Homo sapiens: one gene and its partners. The protein of the gene in region 3 purifies or fractionates together with the protein of the main gene of each other region. This does not show direct contact. Each region holds a gene or a part of one and is shown on either strand. Other genes may lie near its edges.

The links. The genes of interacting proteins can lie anywhere in the genome.
Region 1: the proteins of PLEKHM1 (region 3) and MIOS purify together in Homo sapiens (affinity purification with mass spectrometry; one study listed by BioGRID and IntAct). This does not show direct contact.
Region 2: the proteins of PLEKHM1 (region 3) and PRR5L purify together in Homo sapiens (affinity purification with mass spectrometry; one study listed by BioGRID and IntAct). This does not show direct contact.
Region 4: the proteins of PLEKHM1 (region 3) and DEF8 purify together in Homo sapiens (affinity purification with western blotting; one study listed by BioGRID). This does not show direct contact.

The regions. Positions count from the first base shown.
Region 1 is NC_000007.14:7,569,884-7,573,383, forward strand, and holds part of MIOS (GATOR2 complex protein MIOS), read left to right. Parts: intron 1-2,552; 5' UTR 2,553-2,592; coding exon 2,593-3,500. UniProt on the Homo sapiens protein: As a component of the GATOR2 complex, functions as an activator of the amino acid-sensing branch of the mTORC1 signaling pathway. The GATOR2 complex indirectly activates mTORC1 through the inhibition of the GATOR1 subcomplex.
Region 2 is NC_000011.10:36,446,288-36,449,787, reverse strand, and holds part of PRR5L (proline-rich protein 5-like), read right to left. Parts: intron 3,489-3,500; coding exon 3,348-3,488; intron 1-3,347. UniProt on the Homo sapiens protein: Associates with the mTORC2 complex that regulates cellular processes including survival and organization of the cytoskeleton.
Region 3 is NC_000017.11:45,435,400-45,438,721, forward strand, and holds the end of PLEKHM1 (pleckstrin homology domain-containing family M member 1), read right to left. Parts: intron 2,571-3,322; coding exon 2,459-2,570; 3' UTR 501-2,458; downstream 1-500. UniProt on the Homo sapiens protein: Acts as a multivalent adapter protein that regulates Rab7-dependent and HOPS complex-dependent fusion events in the endolysosomal system and couples autophagic and the endocytic trafficking pathways.
Region 4 is NC_000016.10:89,951,755-89,955,254, reverse strand, and holds part of DEF8 (differentially expressed in FDCP 8 homolog), read right to left. Parts: exon of another isoform or gene 2,573-3,500; intron 1,879-2,572; exon of another isoform or gene 1,735-1,878; intron 1,013-1,734; coding exon of another isoform or gene 1,003-1,012; coding exon 879-1,002; intron 87-878; coding exon 1-86. UniProt on the Homo sapiens protein: Positively regulates lysosome peripheral distribution and ruffled border formation in osteoclasts. Involved in bone resorption.

The sequences.
Region 1 (3,500 bases), on a different chromosome or scaffold from region 3:
TACTCTAGGAAGTGGAAAGGACAGTGTAAAAGGACAGCAAGAATGTTGTGCCACAAGGCCGGTGCAGTAGGCAGAGACCAAAAGCATTTAGGGTTTTGTAGGTTATACTAAGAGCAGCTGAAGACCATTAGAGGGTTTTAAGCAAGGAAGGATAGCCTGGTCAAGGTTGTGTTGTAGAAAGATTTTTACTCTGGTATTCTATAAAGCAAAATTTCTGAAGGACCAGGGGAAAGATGAATAAAAGAAAAGCCTCCAGCACCACACACCAGATATGTTGTATACCTTAATTTACTGAAATCAGTTTTCAGAGGCTTGAGACTATCCTCTGTGTGGTAGCACTTGGAAGCCTGAGTGAGGAGACAAGATGATAAATAATTGGGTTGATCTAGGACTGGGGAAAGGCAAACCCAAAGTGGCAAGGAAATGAAGACATTGAGGGTGCTAGTAAGAATATTGAAATGATTGATCTTGGGCTTGAGAAATGCTAAAGAAGGAAATAAAACCAGTATAAGAATTCCTAAATCAGTGGTCCCCAACCTTTTTGGCACCAGGGACCAGTTTCATGGAAGACAATTTTCTCACGGATGAGGGGTGGGGGTGTGGTTTCAGGATGATTCAAGCGCATTACATTTATTGTGCACTTTATTTCTATTTACATTGTACTATACAATGAAATAATTATACAACTCACCGTAATGTAGAATCAGTGGGAGCCCTGAGCTTGTTTTCCTGCAACTAGATGGTCCCATATGGGAGTGATAGGAGACAGTGACAGATCATCAGGCATTAGATTCTCACAAGGAATGCACAACCTAGATCCCTCTCTTGCACAGTTCACAATAGGGTTTGCACTCCTGTGAGAAACTAATGCTGCTATTGATCTGACAGGAGGCGGAGCTCAGGCAGCAGTGTGTGAGATGAGTGGCTGTAAATAACAGATGACGCTTAGCTCCCTTGCCTGCTGCTCACCTCCTGCTGTGTGGCCTGGTTCCTAACAGGCCAGGGAGCAGAACTGGTCTGCGGCCCTGGGAGTTGGGGACCCCTGGTCTAAATTATATGAGTCTATGAAGTTTTAGACTGGTAATTCCCAACTGAAACTTTTGCAAGATCAAAAAGAAAAGCAATTATGTTTGAGTTGAACTATTTAGTGTATCCTTATTAGGAGTCTATGCCAGGCTCTATATATGGCACTAAGGATAGAGAGGTAAGTGAACCATAGCTTTACCTTATGAGAACTGACAACAGAGTTGTACAGATGCCAATTGCAATGAAGATTTTAAGTATGTTCATTCTTTTTGAATCTATTACCTTTTGCCAGCCTCTGTTAGAAACAGGCATTTAAATTTTTGTAGGCAACCTTAATTATTGAAACACCATTTTTAACTATAGCTATATTTAGTTCGTGTGCTTCTACTGCTAGAATATTTATTTTTTTCAAAAATTCTACTTTAACACTTATTCAAAGTTTGTAGAAGCGAAAACTGAAAGAGCCTCTAATGATCACTTAATCCACTTTCTCAGAGTGTGGTATGTGTGTACCACTGGTCATAAACAGGATGCTTTGTAGATAAAACACAATCAAGCCTTTTTAATAGTTATATATTTCAGTGTAGGTTAAAAATATATTTAGCATAGCATACCATGATTCATGGACCTTATGAAGAGATTAAAGTCAATTTTCAGATTTTAAAAATGAGTCAGTTTAAAGAAAAATATTAATGGCATAGGTGTTACATGACTGAAGTTTGGGAAATACTAATCTAAACCAGCTCCTACATTGTGTAGATGAGAAAACAAAGGGGTTCCCCACACACAATGACTTTTCTGAGGCATATAACTAATATACGGCAGAGCTAGGACTAGAACTCAGGTTCGTTCAGTACATTCCAGTGTTTATTCTGCCATACAAGGCTGATGCTTATTACTAAAGTTGAAGAAACCGCTGTCTTAGTATGACATTGTACTTTAAATCTCCATTGTTCATTACGATGACCACATATGGTTATTTATATTAAAATTTGTTAAAATTAAGGTTTAAAATTTGAATTAGTCACATTTCTAGTGCTCAGTAGCTACATGTGGCTAGTGGCTACCATATTGGACAGCATGAACATGAAACATTTCTGTCATTGCAGAAAGTTTTATTGGGCAGTGCTGCTTTAAACTATTGCTTAGGAATATGATTCATAAGTTTTCCCCCCTTCAAAGGGATAATACTTATTAATTTGCTTACCACACTGAAGTTGTTATAACTCTGAAGTTAAGCTGAAGGTACTAGTAACAGTGCAATTAAGATAATTGATCATGGGAAATATAGCCAGGATGGGATTCTCAGATTCCTACCAGCTCATTTTATTGGAAGTGGTTGTTCTTTCTCCTTTTTTTTCAATAAATATTTTCTTGAATTCATAGCAGATAGAGAGAAGAAATACAAATATATTGAAAAAGAGGGTTCTTGAATAGAGAATTTTCTGACTTTCTGAATAGTTTATTCAACGTAAGAATTATATTTTGCTGATATTTTAAAACTTTTTATTTTTAAACATTTTCAGTGAATGGACCTGAGTGGACCCTTTGATCACATCAGTAAACATGAGCGGTACCAAACCTGATATTTTATGGGCACCACACCATGTTGATAGATTTGTTGTGTGTGACTCAGAACTAAGTCTTTATCATGTGGAATCTACTGTGAATTCAGAACTCAAAGCTGGATCTTTACGTTTATCTGAAGACTCTGCAGCTACATTACTGTCAATAAATTCAGATACACCCTATATGAAATGTGTTGCCTGGTATCTTAATTATGATCCTGAATGTCTGCTGGCAGTTGGACAAGCAAATGGTCGAGTTGTACTTACAAGCCTTGGTCAAGATCATAACTCAAAGTTCAAAGATTTGATAGGAAAAGAGTTTGTTCCAAAACATGCACGACAATGTAATACCCTTGCCTGGAATCCACTGGATAGTAACTGGCTAGCTGCTGGTTTAGATAAGCACAGAGCTGACTTTTCAGTGCTAATATGGGATATCTGCAGCAAATATACTCCTGATATAGTTCCCATGGAAAAAGTGAAACTTTCAGCAGGTGAAACTGAAACAACATTATTAGTAACAAAACCACTTTATGAGTTAGGACAGAATGATGCTTGTCTGTCTCTTTGTTGGCTTCCACGAGACCAGAAACTTCTCCTTGCTGGTATGCATCGTAACCTAGCTATATTTGATCTTCGGAATACAAGCCAAAAGATGTTCGTAAATACAAAAGCTGTTCAGGGTGTGACGGTAGACCCATATTTCCACGATCGTGTTGCTTCCTTCTATGAAGGTCAGGTTGCAATATGGGATCTTAGAAAATTTGAGAAGCCAGTTTTGACATTGACTGAGCAACCAAAACCCTTAACAAAAGTAGCATGGTGTCCCACTAGGACTGGTCTACTTGCCACTTTAACAAGGGATAGTAATATTATTAGATTGTATGATATGCAGCATACACCCAC
Region 2 (3,500 bases), on a different chromosome or scaffold from region 3:
GTGCTGTCCTCAGCCCTTGGCTTGGCTGCCAAACAGCTATGGAATTTGTGTGGTCCAGCGTAAAATGAAAATGCAGGGCCTCGTGTTCAAAAATCATTAAGAGTGTCAAATGCTGATGGGAGAAAATAAAACCAAGCTCAGGGTCCTCTGAGTACAGGCTGCACACCCTGCCTGGCTGGGGCCCCTGAGAATGCACCATTCCGGTGGTCTCAGGACCTGTCTGCATCAGCTGGGAGGAAACAGATCTTCACAGTGGTCAATATCTCCGATTCTGCCTCTCACTGGGGCAGTTTGAAGGCAGAGCACATGGCCCACTGTAGGAGTATTTGTACAACTTGGGAAGGGTGGAGTTGGGTCAGGGACATTGTGGAAGAGCGACAGAAAAGACGGAGCTGAAGGCCTAAGAAAGAGCTCTTTTCTCTGTAGTAGGGTCAGGTAGTTTTGAAAAATATCAGCCCCAGGTCTCATGGCACTGTGGAAAGTGCATGTCTAGGGAGAGAATGGACAATTCTAAGTACGGAGGCCCAAATTTCCTGTAGCAGATATGGCCCCAGGGCAGTGCCACCTGGAAGTTCCATTCAGATCCAGAGGCCATCGCCCTTGCTGCTCAAGATGGACTTGGGCCGGGGAAAGATCCGGGTTCTTCACAGTCACATCCCCAGCCCCAGGCTCTAGAGCTCCTGGCAAGGAAGAACATGGGCCAAAGGCAACATTCCCAGGAAGCCCTCAGGGGAAGTGATGCCAGATGCCCTGCAGGAGAGAGGGACGATCTTTAATGGTCTGTAGGATGCCTGTGGGGCGTTTCCAAGTACCCTGGGAGACTGCAGAAGGGAGGCAGTAGTTGCCTAGAAAGGCTAAGTGGAGGTAGGAAGATAAGGGCTAAGGGATGGGGAGCAATCCAGCTCTCTTAATAAATGAGTACAAGACCTTGAGAAAAGTCGCCACCTTCTCTGAACCTCCATCTCAGCTGTGAGATGGGAAAAATAATGGTATAGACACAGGAGGAACCATTTCCTTGCCTGACTTTCTGGAAATTCGCCATGATCCCAGAGCTTCTTTGACTGTACTTCCCTCTGCCAAGAGAAGAAGCCCTACATGACGGTCACCAACATGGGTGTGAGGTCAGGGACCCAGCATCAGTCCTGCTCAACCTTCTACTAGCTGGTGCTATATTCCCTGGACAGTGTTTAATTAATACCTATTATGTGCCAAAGACTATGCTGGGTGCTGAGGGCACAAGGGCAAGGAGAAAACATTGACCTGCCTTGATTAGACAGGGGCTTGAGGACCCCAGAAGACAAAGTGTTCTGAGCAGGAGGAATGGTGATCACAAAGATCCCACGGCAGCCAGGAGAAGCCAAGAAGACCAGAAAAGTGAGTAAGTCAGGTTCCAGGCAGGGATGGAAGGGTGGGAGATGCTGAAGGCCAGGGTACAGACTTGGGCTGTTTTTCTAAGATCGATTGGAAACCACTGAAGAGTTTGAGGCCGTCCCATGGAGAGCAAATGGGGGTGGGGACCAGAGCGCATGAGGGTAGATTCTCCTGGGCAAGCAGTCTCACCTGTCTTTGGGGACTCAGGGGTATGATGACAGCTTTCTCATATGGCTGCAGGGCTACCTGGCACAGGGCCCGGAATGTTGGAATGTGATAGACACAGGCCCTCCTGTTCCAGCAGCAACAGGTGAGAGTCTTCACCTGCAGGACTGGATCAATTCTCCTTCCCACAAAACCAAACAAACCGCCACCGCCCAAAACACAAAGGAATCGCTTCTCAGCCCTAAACTATTATAAACTGATATGGGAAGATGGGAGCCCAACTTTCCGAATTTTCCTATCAGAATCCCAAAGGGCTCATTTTCAAGACTCCTTATTCAGGAAGCATGCTCTAATTAAGGCTTCTCAGACCCGAGCCCCACATGCATTTTTCTATCCCCCTCCTTCTCCATCTCTTCCATAAAAATACTTGACCTGGCATTCCGGCCAATTACACCCACCCTCATCCTATTAGGCAACTCTTCCTCCTCTCTAATTACAGGAAAGGGGGAGAATGCCCAGAAGGATGGCCCAGCTTCAAGGACTGAAAGAGAGCACCAGCTGGGGGATGTGGGGGAAGGATTGGGGCCCCAATGCCTGACATTCCATCACTGCTGTGAGGGCAGCAAGGGGTCATCACTAGCCTGATCAAGGATGAAGCCATCTTCCCTGAGGAAGGGCTCAGAGCTAATGCTGCAGCATCTGAACTTGTTACAGAGGTGAAGAGGCATAGTAGTCACCTCTTGGGGGTGTCCCTAGCCAAAAACCCTACTCGTCGAGAATTGTGTGCCCCCACCCATAGGAATGAGTTTGCCAAGGCCATGTTTATACTGCTTGATCTTATTCAAGGGTCATGGCTGATTGGGCAAAGAGGAATCATCTAGCCCAAGCTGGACCAATTAAATTATTTCCTCTGGGGAGGAAGCACAGTGTGCATAATTCCAAATCTTACTGCCTCTTCCTAACTGAGGGACCTCAGGCAAGCACACAAACTTACTAGGTTTCATTTTCCTCACCTCTAAAATGGGAATAACAATGCCTACTTCATACAGTGATTGTCTGGATTATCTGATTAAGGAAACAACACACTTAACGTCCTTGGCCTGTGCCCGGCACATAGCCAAGGACCAATATGTGTTAGCTCAAATTCCTAGTATTGATTTAGAATTGGGATTGAGTGACACTAGGCAGCCACTGGGCAGTCTCTTACTGGAAGCACATCAGCTGTGAGGTGTCACATTCGATCAGGTACAAACCAAACACAGAACATAAGCCTGCAGGGAGAAAAAGACCAAGTCCAGGAAAGATAGGATAAGATGAAGACAGACAAAGTAGCCCAGATACAAGTAGAGACTAGAAAGTAGAGAAAGGATGGTGGCTTCATGGCCTGAGACAGCCTCATTCCTGGTTGTAATCCCTCCTGAAGTCCATCTGCCCTAGGAGCTTTTCAGGGAGTTCCTCATCTGCTTAAGCTAGGCCAAAGTGTATTCTTTGCTGTGACTTGCAACTTGTGGCTCCCTGGCATCACTGGAGAGGGGAAAAGGGCATCTACTTCCTGAATGAAAGACTATGCTTCCCTCACTCCCCAGTGTGGTCCTGGCACCAAGCACAGCACCAGGACCTAACAGGTGCTCAGTGAATGCACCTCAAATGAACAAATGAATGAATGAATGAACACGGGCCAACAAACTAAATAGTAGTAAGCCAAGCTAAGGTGCTCTGGTCACTAGGTTCCTTCCCCCTCATCTCAGAAAGGCAATCTCTTCCCTCGCTCCCTCCCTCTGCCTTGGGGCAAGTCTCCAGCACAGCCTCACCTGCAGGATGAGCAACATCTGGACAATGGACGAGGGCAGCTTGGACTGGGCCAGCAGCAGCAGGTCACCCAGCTTCACCTTCAGCAAGACTAGGTCTCGGAAGCCCAGCAGGGAGATCTGGCGGATAGTCAGCTCCTGGCCCTAGAGGGGACA
Region 3 (3,322 bases):
AGGTCAGCAGCCAAGTAAAAGTCATTTTGAGCCCTAAAACCATGAGCCCTGAATCGGGGGATCCACTTAAATAACCCTTCTTTCCTGAGCCCCATCTCTCCTTTATTTCTCCTCTGAGAAATGTCCCCTGTATCCTGAGGTTTCACATGATCCAGTGTCAAGGGTCTGTGTTTTGACATTTAAGTCACAGGAAAAGAAGCCACCGGCGTGGGATCAGCTTGAGTTGTTATACAAGTGTGGGTACACCTCCCCAGAGACCCTGAGATCCTACCCCAGGAAGAGCCTGACTGCTGGGCTTGGCAAGGTGGTTTTCTTACTCTCTTCTCCCTGCCCACTCCTGGCATGCAAGCCCTCTGCCTACAAGTGTTTGCCACGGACCTCCCAAGCCTTCCCCCGTGCCAGGGACTAACATGAGGGTAGGGGACCCTGACAGATGGTAACAGATGGCTGGTGGTCTCCCCCCTGGCCGTGGCAGTGTTAGAATTCAGAAGCCAGACCAGTGATGAGAAAGATCAGGTCTTTACTGCAAAATCATTCAAAACTCACACGGCAGCAATTCCTTCAATACATTGCAAAGACTCCTCAGGGCCAGAGCCCTGCTCACTAGGAACAGTGTATTGCATAAAATAACATTTTAAAAATAGTGTGGGCACTACCTTTCTGAGGGAGGGGAGGCGGGAAGAGTCAATGCATCTGAAAGCACTGGCAGCTTCTGGGGAACGGGCCCCCCAGGGCCTCAAACCTGCTGCCTCCGAGGGCACCTTCGGGGAGAATCCTCACAGGCCCAAGCCCTCCCCAGGCCAGGCTCCTGCCCACTCAGGGATGGGGCAATGAGGGCTCTGACTAGGCTGGGCTTGTGGTGGAGCGTTAATGTGGGCCATGGCGGTGCATAACCCAGCTCCTGGCTTAGGAGGCATTGGCGTCTGGGCACAGGTGTGTGCCATGACCGGGAGAAGCTGTGCGCAGCCTCCACCTGCCTGCCACCGTTGCCTCTGTTCTGCTGCACAGGCATCCAGCTCCAAGGCTGGGTGGGTGACTCAGCAGCTAATCGCCCCCAGGGAAGGGTGGGGGTGGGCTCATCTCTGACAGTGACATGCGGCTCTCCACCTGAGGCCTGACTCCAAGCTGAGCGCAGGTAAGACAGCTAGGACTGAGGGCCTGCTAGGTCCAGGAGAGGTGGGGGAAGGCGACAGAGAGACCAGCAAACCCACATTTCCCCGAAGCCTGGAGGGTCTGACCATCACTTTGAAAACAATTCCAGACTCCCACCCCAGCCCCAAGGCCCCTTCAAAGGCAGTCCTGCTCCGGGGAACTTCTTCAGTCTCCAGTGTCCCGGCTGGGCAAGTTCAGTGATGCTTTGGGAATTCATGGCTTTGTGAGGTGGTGGCTGCATCCACAGGGCAGTTCCCCCGCACGCCCTGCACAGCTTAGGACCAGGTCACTTCTCCACAGTGCAGGGCGTGGCTGCCTGCCCTCTCTGGGGTCCTGCCTATCTGTGCCCTGGCAGGGGTCAGTCAGGCAGAGAGTGTGACCCCGGGCACCCACCAAGGTGGGCCTGGAGCATCTGCAGCAGCGCCCCTGTCTGTAGAGGGGTGAGGAGCGCACGGGGATCGGGGGTGGGCAAGACGGCGACCCTCCATAAACCGAGGAGGGCTCAAAGTGCTGACAGTGCTGGTTTCCAGTCATTTCTCCTTCTCCTAATGGGGCCAAGGCCCCAGGCTAGAGAAGAGCTAGGGGCTCTGACGCTGAGAAAGCGGTGGGCTCAGCAGGCGAGACGCACTGGGGTGGGGAGTAAAGAGGACACAGAGGAACCGGGGTCGCCAGGACTGGCCCTGCCCTGCTGAGGGGCGGTTTGGCACTGGCAGTGAGGGCCAAGGAAAGGCACTGGGTGGGCCCATAGACCCTGTCCCAGCAGTGGCCTGCCCACCAGCCACCCGCTACCTCTAAGCCAGGCCTGAGTGGCTCCTGTGCATCCGCTGGGGGTGAGAATGTCTGGATTTCATGGGTGACTCACGTAGGGTCAAGAATAAAAAAATACTTTCTGTTGAAATATGAATGGGAAAAACCCACCTTAAAAAACTAGACCTTTTAATCAGGAATGTGGAATTGAAAATGCTCCCCAAGTCCCCTTTCCACAGTGTTTGGGCAGCCCTAACGGAGGCGCCGGGACGCTGGTGAGCCAGGGCCTGGTGAGTAAACGGCCCTGCCTGCCCCAGACAGGGAGCATCTGGTGGTGGCCACGCCTCCTGCAGCAGAGGGGTGGGGGGAGGGCCAGGGGACACCACGGGGACTTCCTGGGCTTTCTCTGGGAGGCCGGTGCTCTGGCCACATCTGAGGGTCTTCCTGACAAGGGGACACAGCTGTGACACGGTGAGTATCCTGGGCTGATGGCAAACCCAGCCGGGATGGCTGAGCCACACTCACCCCCGGCTTTCAGAGCGGGGTCAGCAGATGGGCATCAGGCGAAAATGTTCTGTTCCTGGTACTTGCGCCGGCGGGCACAGCGGGGGCAGCCCTTCTTCACCACAGCCTGGCAGCTCTGGTGGAAGACGGTCTTGCACTCGGCACACCTGGGGAGAGAGCAGTAGGCCTGCTGGTGCCGGCTGGGCTGGAGGTTGCCCTGTGGCCACGCTGGCCAGCCCTTTTGACCAGAACCCACGATACGGCTGTGATGTACTGTGTAACCCATGCACGCACACCGTGCCTCTCCGTTCTGGAACAGGAGAGTCTTGAAACAGTGCTTACCCATACGTCACACAATGCACACTGATATTCTCTGTCCTATTGCATTTTTTATAAATGCTGCTTGAGATTCATTAAAGATCTCTTGCCTATATTTAAAAAATATTTACGGCCAGGCGCAGTGGCTCACGCCTTTAATCCCAGCACTTTGGGAGGCCGAGGTGGGCGGGTCACAAGGTCAGGAGATCGAGACCATCCTGGCTAACACAGTGAAACCCTGTCTCTACTAAAAATACAAAAATTAGCCGGGCGTGGCGGTGTGTGCCTGTAGCCCCAGCTGCTGGGGAGGCTGAGGCAGGAGAATGGCATGAACCCGGGAGGCAGAGCTTGCAGTGAGCCGAGACTGCACCATTGCACTCCAGCCTGGGCGACAGAGCAAGACTCCATCTCAAAAAGAAAAAAAAAATTTTTTTTACTTACTTTATTTATTTATTTTTCAGAGTCTTGCTCTGTTGCCCAGGCTGGAGTGCAGTGGCACGATCTCGGCTCACTGCAACCTCTGCCTCCCGAATTCAAGTGATTCCCCTGCCTCAGCCTCCCAAGTAGCTGGGATTACAGGTGCCCACCACCACACCTGGCT
Region 4 (3,500 bases), on a different chromosome or scaffold from region 3:
GAAGTGGTCCTCAGACAGGCCGAGATCCATCACGCGTTCAGGGCAGCGGAATTCCGGCTCCCCAGGGGGCAGCTCAGGCAGGGCCTCTGGAGGAAGACGGGGACAGGTGTGGAGCGTCAGCTGCTACCTCCTGCCTCCCATCCCCTAGGGAGGAGCTGAGATAGCCAGGAGTGGGAAAGGGATTCAGGAAGCCGCACAGAAAGGAGGCACCGTGAGAGCTGGGCACCACTCAGATCTGCACACCGTCCAGTCTGCATTCACAGAGGAGCCCACAGCCTTGTGTAGACAGGAAAGAGCCACTCAAAATGAGGAGGTGGAATGACACTCGGTGCCAAAAGTCCTCAAGACAGCATTATAGAGACATCCCATTTCTAAGGTGGACACCTCATGCGTGACCACGGGGGCGAGAGAAAAACCACTGCATGGCTACACAGCAAAATCCACGAACCCCAGTGTCGACTCCAGGCCGTCTCTGCAGCTGCCCCGCTCCAAGCACTCCCTGATGACCTCATCTGCAGTTTCTAAAGCTCATGCCACCCTGACGCCCAGAGCACGTTCCCTCGGCTAACCTCTCCCTTACCAGGTCTCAGCGCTGACCGCACTCAGCAAGTGTTCCCTGAGCACCTACTATGTGCTGGGCCCTAGGATGCAGCAGTGATGGGTCAGGCACAAATCTTGCCCTCAGGAATGTGAATTCTAGTGGGGACACAGAAACAAACCACACGACCACAGAAGAGATGGGAAAAAGAACACAGCCAGCAGGTGCCGGCTCCGTGGGAAAGCCAGGGCTGCGCAGGACGCGGCAGGAAGAAAGGAGGGGTCCACGTAAGCAGTCAGAGACCTGCCCAGCTCCCACCCTGACTCCCACCAGCACCCACCTTCAGGAGTGACGTCCGGGACCTCCTCCCCAGGGCCCTGCTCATGCTGTCTCGGCCCAGACTGCTTGTTGAAGGGGTTGAGGTGGGCCTGCCGGAAACGGGCCAGCTTCTCATCATATTCCATAGCATCCCACCTGAGGGCCAGGCAGGGCCAGGATGAGTCCCCAGGTACCAGGCTCACCACGGACCACCCCCTTTCCCCAACCACACTGGGGTGTCTGGGGTGAGGCTGGCCTCTTTCACTTCCCTAAAGTGGGTAGTCCTCACACCACAGCCTTGATCTTCAGCCTTTTCCTGAAACACCTCAGCTGCCTCCTGCCCAGGCCCCCACTGGTGGCGTCCCCTTGGAAAGAGCTCACGGTGACAATGAGGGTCCCACGAGGGCACGTGGCCCATCTGAGGGGCCCAAGCTCCCTGCCTCCCAGCACAGGGTCCTCTTGCCCAATGTTGCAGAGCTCCAGCCCTAGAGCTACCTATGGGATCCTCTCTGGGCCTCAGCCCCAGATACTCACTCAGCCCCGCTCTAGCTTGCTATCCACCTGCTATGTGAGACACACCTCTCAGAAATGGGTTCCTCCTTCCTGGGCCCCAAGCAAAGGTGCTTTCTTGTCAGAGCACCCTGAAACCACAGCCCCTGTCTCAGGACTTAGGGTTGGACACTTGGGGACAGTTCCAGGGCCCATTCCTGCTCTGCCACAGGTGAGTGAGCAGGGCCCACCTTCCCCATGCCCAGGAGCAGGGGATCTTGGGAGGATTCCCTGCCAGCACACAGAGAAGCCCCCTACAAATGCATCCAGGCTCTCTGGCCTGGGTTCTGATCCTGTGATGAGCAACACGACCTGAACCAGGCCCACGGCTCTGTGCCTCAGGAACCCAGGAAACAGGCCGGAAGGGCCTAGTTCTCCACGTGGCAGAAGCTCAGGATCAAGAATTGCTCTTTCCCCACCCGGAGGCTCAGAACACTGCAGAACACACAGGGCTGATGGCTCCTGGCAGGGAGGAAGGGACTTTGGTTGGGGTGGGAGTAGAGGCAGTTGGCATCCAGCCCTCCCACTTAACTTCCTGGGCCACATTCCTTAGCCTCTCTGCCTCCATTTCCCCATCCGTAATGGGCCATTGTGAGGGTGAAATGAGTTAACAGAGACTGAGCACAAAGTAAGCTCGCTGTAAGGTCTGTTGATGTTATAGAAAGTCGGAGATGTCTTTTTAAAGTTGTTCAGTAACTGCAACAGTGTTAGTTATGCTTTCACTACACCTGCTACAGTGTTAGTTATGCTTTCACTACACCTGCTACAGTCTGAAATAATTCACAATTATAATAATCAATCCTATGATTTATCCTCTGTCTCTTCTCCCAAAAGAAAGAGAGCTGAGCCCAGAGGGGACGGCCCTGCTCAGGGTCACACTGTGGCCTGGAAGAACTGGGATTTGAACTAATTGCCTCACTGGCAGTGGGATAAGGAGGCCACCCCAACCCCACATGGCTGCCCTGCAACTGGGCAAGACTCCACACCACCTATGGGGCCTGTCCTGCCTGTTGTGCCTGTGGGGCAGGAGTGTGGGTTGGGCACCTGCACGCCAGCCTGAAAGGACAAAGCACCCATGGACAGGCTGCCCGTGGACCCCAACAGGGAGGCACGGGGAAGACACAGGGAACGTGAGTGGGCCCCAGTCCCACCTCCTTCTCTTATTACCTGATGACTGTGGGTGGGTCACAGAGTCAGAGGCGGCCACCCGATGCCAGCACCTCCCCAGTCTCCCAGGGAGCACCCAGGACACAGGAGAAATCAGGCCATCCCAACATCACTCCTCCTTCTTCCTGAATGAGGAGCCTCATTTTTGTTTGTCACATAATTTCCCAGCCTCCCCAGCAGCTAGACCTGGTAAAGTGACTGTTCTGACCCCCTCGGCTTGAGAAGATCAGGCAGATCTGAGCAGCTCTGGGCTCCTGGCTTCACTGACATACCCAAGTGCTTAGCCCTTCCATCCACCCCAGGAAGTACGTGTTCTCCCTGATTTATAGGCAAGAAAAGGGAGAACCAGAGACTAAATCAGGGCTATCTGAAAACAACAGTAATGGGCCGGGCGTGGTAGCTCACACCTATAATCCCAGCACTCTGGAAGGCCAAGGCAGGAGGACGGCATCCGGCCAGGCCCAATGCAATGAGGCCCTATCTCTATTAAATTTTATACAAATATGGGCTGGGCGCCGTGGCTCACGCCTGTAATCCCAGCACATTGGGAGGCCGAGGCGGGCGGATCACCAGGTCAGGAGATCGAAACCATCCTGGCTAACACATTGAAACCCTGTCTCTACTAGAAATACAAAAAATTAGCCAGGTGTGGTGGCAGGCGCCTGTAGCCCCAGCTACTCGGGAGGCTGAGGCAGCAGAATAGCGTGAACCCAGGAAGCGGAGCTTGCAGTGAGCCGAGAACGCACCACTGCACTCCAGCCTGGGCAACAGAGCGAGACTCCATATCAAAAAAAAAAAAAATCTTTTTTACATAAATATGTATGTGTGTGTATATACATATATATGTGTGTGTGTGTATACATACATATGAGAAAAAAGAAAAGACTTCTGAGAATTGTCCTTAAAGGTAGGGGCTGCCCCTCTTCAG